Homo sapiens: one gene and its partner. The protein of the gene in region 2 purifies or fractionates together with the protein of the main gene of each other region. This does not show direct contact. Each region holds a gene or a part of one and is shown on either strand. Other genes may lie near its edges.

Region 1 (3,500 bases), on a different chromosome or scaffold from region 2:
CTGATGCAGGTTCTCCTCCCAGCAGCTGCCCCTCTCATTCTCCTAACACACAGCTTTCATGACAGGCATGAGCACTGGACTGGAAGTCAGCAGCCCTACCTTCTAGTCACTTATCTTCTGGGCCTCAGTTTCCCCATCAGTGAAATGAGGGCATGACTTTTGCTCATCCTGAGTGCTTTACCCACACTGGTTCCTTTCATCTTCTCCTCATCCCCACCAGATAGATGTCGATGCTGCGGCTGAGGGAGGCAGTCACTCGCTCAAAGTCACACACCTAATGAGTGGTGGGACTGGGATTTGAACCCAGTTGTCTGGCCCCAGGGACCACAGGCTCAAGTACCTTGCCACGGCTCCATCATGTTGCCCCTCCTGATCAAGAACCAGCGCTGGCTCCCCATTACATAGGGATGAAATGAAAACAAGCTCATTATAGCCTGAGTCTAAACTAGACCTCTTAAGGTTCCACGGTGAAAACACCTTCCCCTCACTTGTGTCTCCTCTTGGTGCCTTCCCTGGGGAACCTGCCCCAGCCACCCAGCCCACTGTCTCATCCTGCCTCCAGACCCGTTTCCTGCACCCTCATTTACTTTAATAACTCCTTCCCTGTCCTGGGCCAATGGTGTTGCAAGCCTTTCCTGTCTATTATCACACTTGAGTTTCATGATTGCCCATGAGGTTGGCCAAGTAGGTGTCATTATCCCACTTTAAGGTGAGGTTAATGGGCCCAGAGAGACTAAGTGATTTAGTCAAGCTCAGCTGGCCGATGTGTGACCCAGCCTGGTCTAAAACCTAATTCTTGACTCTGGTCCCAGCACCACCTGAGCCCTCGGCTTGCAGCCCCTCCCTTCCCCAACCTCAGATGTAGCTTGTTCACCTGTGCTAAGCCCTTGTTCAGACCGTGGTCCTGGGGACCCTCCTGGGCAGGGGTGCTTCAGTCTTCACTGGGGATCCCCCAGCATCTCACACAGAGCCTGGCACATGGAGAGGCAGGGGCGCTGGGCTGAAACACCCTACACCCAGGGGCTGGAGCCTGGGGACTGAGTGGGGTTTTCATACCAGAAGGACCATCAAGGGCGCTCAGCCCTTGCCCATGGACACTGGAGGCCCAAGGAACAGCTTTGGGGTTGAGGGAGTTCCATAAAAAGTGTACAGGCTTCAGCCAGGCGCGGTGGCTCGCGCCTGTAATCCCAGCTGGGAGGCTGAGGCAGGCGGATCACTTGAGGTCAGGAGTTCAAGACCAGTCTGGCCAATATGGTGAAACCCTGTTTCTACTGAAAATACAAAAATTAGCCGGACACGGTGGTGGGCTGTGTTGTCCCAGCTGCTTGGGAGGCTGAGGCATGAGAATTGCTTGAACCCGGGAGGTGGAGGTTGCAGTGAGCCAAGATTGCACCACTGCACTCCAGCCTGGGCGACAGAGCAAGACTCTGTCTCAAAAAAAAAAAAAAAAAAAAAAAAAAAAGGCTTCCTTGGGAGATGGAAGGCGAGTGCCTCAGGAGCGTGGCTGAGGGTGTTCCCGAGGGTATGAGAGGCTGCTCTTCCTACCTGGGTTTGTCTTCCTGTGTCTCTTTCCGACTCCCTGTCTCTGACTCTCCATCTCGCTGGGTCTCTCCAAGTCTCTCTGTCCCTATCTCTCTGTCTCTGTGTCTTCATGCCTCTCTCCCTGGTTCTGCCATTTCCCCTGTGGGGGGCTGCCCAGGGCCAAACAGGCCAGAGGGCTCCACCAGCCCTGGAAATTACAGGCTTTGGGAGTAGGGTTGCCAGATAAAATAAAAGATGCCTAGTTAAAATTGAATTTCAGGTAAATAATTAATAATTTTTTTAGTATAAGTGTATCCCAAATACTTCACGGGAGTACCAAACAATGATTGACTGTTCACTTGAAATTCAAGTCCAACTGAGCTTTCTGTATTTTTATTTGCTAAGTCTGGCAGCCCTGCTTAGGAGGAGAAACAGGTGTGTCTGTCCCTCCCAACTGGTGAGGACACCTGACAGGGGCCCAGACACCAGAGTGGGACCTGCCTGATGGAGAGAAGCTTGGGCTTGGTTTATTTCCCTTTTCATAAAAAAGCTGCTTTGAGATGTAAGAGAATCATGTTGGTGGAAGAGTGAAGAGGTTGTTTTGGGGGAGGTCTGCCTTACTCTGAGGGAAGATGGGAAGCGGGGGGAGTGGCCAGCTGTGGAAATTTGGGGTAGTCCCCTACGTATCCTGTGCCTCAGTTTCCCCATGTGTAAACAGGAGTAATTATCTCATCCTGGGGCTGCAGTGAGGATCAGATGAGCTAATGTACAAAAAGGCTTAGGCAGGCCTGCCGTGATAAGAGTGCAGAGGCTGGGGGCTTTTTATGTTATGGTATTGTTGTTATTATTACTCCTGGGGAGGTGGTGGGCAAGAGTGTGGACTGAGGAGCCACATGGCTGGGTTTGGATCCCAGCCCGGCCACAGACCTTGGGCAAGTTACTTAACCTCGGCTTTCTCATCTGTATAATGGGAGACAATAATAGATAGTGCCTCCCTTCTAGGGTTATTGAGAGGATTGCATGATGGGCTGGCACACAGCATGAGCTCAGTAAGTGTCAGTCACTGTTATCCCCCAGGGGCATGCATGCCGCTGCCTCCAGGAGGCCCTCCAACTCGCAGTGGCCTCTCCCTACATGGGTTCCCACTGAGCTGTGATCCTGTGGCCTTGAGCCCCATCTGGCTGCCCTGGACAATGTTGGTCCTCAGCTCCCCAGCGGGATCAACAGTGGGGAGAGCAGTGGGTGGATCTGCCCGCCAGGCAGTACCTGAGTGCACAGTGGGCACCCCACAGTCAAAGGATGCATAGTCTGGTTTCCAAGGAGGAACCCCAGGCTAGGTGGAATGAGGGAAATGCAATCTCAGGGCCAGATAACATCACAGATACTTTAAACCTGCAATTAATTTCTGGTTGTTTGACCAAATCCGGCCAAGTTTCCCGGGTGACACTGCAGAGCTGTGGAACAGCATGGGCTTGGAGTCAGACCTGTTGCACATCTGGCTCTGCCATGTGATGCAACCTCAGGCTTGTCACGAGGCCTCCTTGAGCCTCAGTTGCTAATATGCCAAATGGGGATGATATTGCTCACCTTACAGCTTGTAAGAGTGGAGGGAGCTGCGTGCGCCAGGTGCCTGGCATGCAGCGGGCACTCAACCAGATTGAATTCCCTTCCCAGGGAAGAATTCAAGGATATCTTCCCACCCACTAAGGAGACATGTGATGGGATCTGGGGTGAGAATTGCTCTTTTTAAAGCTCTCAGAACTGTAAGGGGCTCCACCCACCAATGGCTGGTGTTCACTGAGCTCTTCGTGCCCAGACCTGCACTGGGGATTTATCGAGCACATGGCTGGCTTCTGACTTCCGAAGAGCTCGCCATTCTGGTGAGTGGTAAAGAAACTCACAAGGGAAATGTTAATGAACACAGGGGCTTAGAACATCAGACTGTGTGTATGTTTTTTTGTTTTGTTTTGAAACAGGGT
Region 2 (3,500 bases):
CTCCCTGCTCACTGGGAGGGGCTCCCCTTGGACAGGGACTGCCTCCTTCTCTCCTTCCAGGTTCCGAAGGCCCCCTCTTGTCCCCCACCCCTGCCCCCATCTCCCCTCCCACCCCGACCCCTACTGCCTTTCCCATGGCTGCTTTTCTTTCCCAGATTCCAAGGAGCTGGAAGTTGCTGCCATCATCAGGGTCATTGGTGGGCGTCTAGCCAGGCCAGCACTGGGCTCACAGCCTGAAAGCACCTCAGCCACAGGCAGAGGGAAATGGAGAAGGGATAAGGTGCCTCCACCCCTCACCCCTCCCCAGACCTACACCAGCCCTGCCTGCGGCCAAACACGGCACAAACCACAATCCTGCCTGGCCTGAGAGCCACGCGTGCCGGGAGCTGCCAGAGAGGTGGCTGACTCACCACCACCTCAGGCTTCTGTGCAACAAGGCCTGAGAGTCTTCTGCAAGGGGGAGCTGGTGCTGGAGCTGGACTCAAGGAGTCCTGCACCCAGCCCGGGCCGCAGAACGGGCATTGAGTGCATCTTCATTAGCTGGAGAGAAGCAGCAGGAGCTGCCTTCACTCCCCAGGAGGCAGCCGCTCAGCACGCTGGGGTAAGAGGAGCTGTTGGAGCCCAGCCTCCTGTTCTAACCACAGACAAGCCAGGCCTGGAGGAGCAAAGACGCCCCGATGGAGGGGGCCCCTAGCACTCCCACCGATGTCACGGATAGCAGGGCAGCAGCCACCTGGCCCTGCACCTCCCTGGGGCTCCAGCGGTCCTGCTCAGGGTCACCCCAGCCCTCAGGGTCTTACCTAGGAAAGTTCCAGCGAACCCCAGTGCAAAGAAGCTGGAGAGCACGAGCACGACGCCCAGTCCCAGGAGCGCGAGGCCCAGGCTGTAGGCCGCGGGGGTGTCCAGGCTCTCCATCCTGGGCTGGCTCAGCATGGCCTGCGTGAAGCTGTGGGCAGGGGATGGAGAGGGAGGACGTCATGGCCAGGGAGGATGTCACAGCCCGGGAGGAGGCCGACCTCATCTTCTCGCCCTCTCCCCAGGGACCCTTAGAGAGTAGCCAGCCCAGGGCTGCCAGGCCAGGCAGGCAGCAGGTGGGGTCCAGTCCACCTGGGAGGTGGGTGACAGTAACAGGGAGGGGCCCAGGCCTGTCAGATTTTTAAATTTTTTCAAGAGAAGCCAGAAATCCTGACTCGTATGTGAAATATCCTAATTTTTAGAAATAGACAATTCATGAAAGCCACTTTAGACCCTGCATGTGAGCAGGCTGGATTCAGCCCGAAGGCCACCAGCTTGCAAACTCTCATCCTGTCCAATGAGCAACTCATACTATGGAGGAAAGTGAGGCTCAGGAAAGACGCAGGTGCCAGGTTGCAGGGCAGGCCCAGGTGTCCCATTCCCCAACAGACTCAGTGCCCCGAGGCCTGGGGCATGCTCTGTGCTAGGGATTGCGCTTCCACAGCCCCTGTGGGTCTGGCCACATCCTGGGTGGCTTGACTTGCATTTAAAGGCACTTTGGGGGCCCTTAATGTCCTCCTCCACACCTGAATTCCCCCACTAGGCTCCCTTTGGGGCCAAACCACTGAAGGCCTTGTAAAAAGGTAGTGGGGTCCAGGTGTGGTGGCTCACGCCTGCAATCCCAGCACTTTGGGAGGCCGAGGTGGGCGGGTCACCTGAGGTCAGGAGTTCAAGACCAGCCTGGCCAACATGGTGAAACCCTGTCTCTACCCAAAATACAAAAATTAGCTGGGTGTGGTGGTGGGCACCTGGAATCCCAGCTACTTGAGAGGCTGGGGCACAAGAATCGCTTGAACCCAGGAGGCGGAGTTTGCACACCACTGCACTCCAGCCTGGGCAATAGAGCGAGACTTAGTATCAAAAGAAAAAAGAAAAAAAGAAAAGGCAGTGGCGTGACCAAAAGGGGGTGACTATGACAGCAGTGGGTCTAGAGGCTCAGGTTCTCCAGTTGGCTCCGGAGAACTGAGGGGCTGGTGCAGGGAGGGCACAGGGGCTAGGCATGTGCTGATGTACCCAGGCCTCATCACAGGGGAGCGGGCGCTGGTGGGAAGGGGGCCCTGGGTGCTAGATGAGAGGCACACTCACAGGAAAGGCTGTGTGTGGGAGCACGGACATGTGTGACCAAATGTGCTCTTCCCATGCTCACAATAATCACAACACAGAAGAGACATGGAGATCTGCTACCTCACGCAGGGCAGCGCCTTTCACACCCAGTCTGTAGACGGCATCTCCCAGCAGGGCCAGCTTACCATCCACCCCACCACCCATCCTTCCTCCATCCATCTATCCTCTATGCACCCACACATCCATCCATCTGTCCAGCTATCCATCCTTCCATCCATCAATGTATCCTCTATCTGCCCACACAACCATCCATCCATCCACCATGAAGTATCTTTGTTTGCTAGGCTCTTTCAAGCAGATTGAAGCCCCCATCTTCATCCACTCGTTCCATTCATTGGTGAATTCAGATTGTTGTGAAACTCCTTATGCTGAGCTAAGGACATACAGACATGTCTTTATGCCTCCCTGGAACTCCTTCCTCCAGCTTGACTGGGAGCTCTTGGGGAACAGAAGTTGCTCCTCCTTCCCTGCGTATCCCCCCAGCACTTGGCCCAGGCCACAGAATGGATGTTTAGTGCATATTCATCGACTGGAGAGAAGCAGTAGCCGCTCCTTCCTTCTCCTCCCATCCCCAAGAGCAGAGAAGGAGCCAGGGAGAAAGGGAGAAGGGCCTGTGGACAAAGCCACCAGGACCCGGTGGCAGAGGCGGGCACACCGACCTGTTAAACAGCGGCATTCGGGTGTCAGGGCAAACCCACTGCCGGTCATGCTGCCCATACCCCCAGCTCTCCACCCACCAGTGCCCTGCCCTGATCCTGCTGCTGCCCGGGCTCAGGGTCACCCCGCAGCTCCAGGCCGAGCCTCTGGGATTGGCTCAGGGTCACGGGCTGCCATGGAATCAGGTGGCCACATGCACACCCAGTGTGGTGCCACGATCCAGGCACACCTTCTCCCCTGCCTGGCACCCTCCACTCTCCTGCCTGCAGATGGTGGAGTGGGAGGGAAAGGAAGGGTGCCGGCCCTGCTCAGGAGCATGGCTCCCCTGCAAGCATCTGGCTCCTTGGCTGCCACTGCAGTGGGGACCAGAAAACAGACAGGGGTTGGGAGGGGCGAACAGGGGAGAGCATTCCAGAAAGAGGAAATAGCAGGGAGGTGTGCCTTAGAGTCTGGGGCAGGGCATGGAGCAGGGAAGGTGCAGGCCTCGGCCCGGCAGGGTTTGGAATGCACTCTGCCTGCTGTGGAAAATGCAGAACCAGGGAGACCCATCCAGGTGCTGCAATAGGGGGTGGGCGCAGAGGCCAGGCCCGAGACGCTGGAGGGTCACTCTGGACGGAGACTCTGTCGCTCTTACCCCCTCCTGCGGAGACCCGAGCCAGGCCTGGGTCCATACCCCATGCTCAGGGTTCCTCTGCCAGAATTCA

What was found. Proteins that work in one complex are often made in the same cells at the same time.
Region 1: the proteins of PEMT (region 2) and PADI3 purify together in Homo sapiens (affinity purification with mass spectrometry; one large-scale study listed by BioGRID and IntAct). This does not show direct contact.

Annotation. Positions count from the first base shown.
Region 1 is NC_000001.11:17,255,598-17,259,097, forward strand, and holds part of PADI3 (protein-arginine deiminase type-3), read left to right. Parts: intron 1-1,648; exon of another isoform or gene 1,649-3,401; intron 3,402-3,500. UniProt on the Homo sapiens protein: Catalyzes the deimination of arginine residues of proteins.
Region 2 is NC_000017.11:17,511,709-17,515,208, forward strand, and holds part of PEMT (phosphatidylethanolamine N-methyltransferase), read right to left. Parts: intron 947-3,500; coding exon 801-946; intron 1-800. UniProt on the Homo sapiens protein: Catalyzes the three sequential steps of the methylation pathway for the biosynthesis of phosphatidylcholine, a critical and essential component for membrane structure.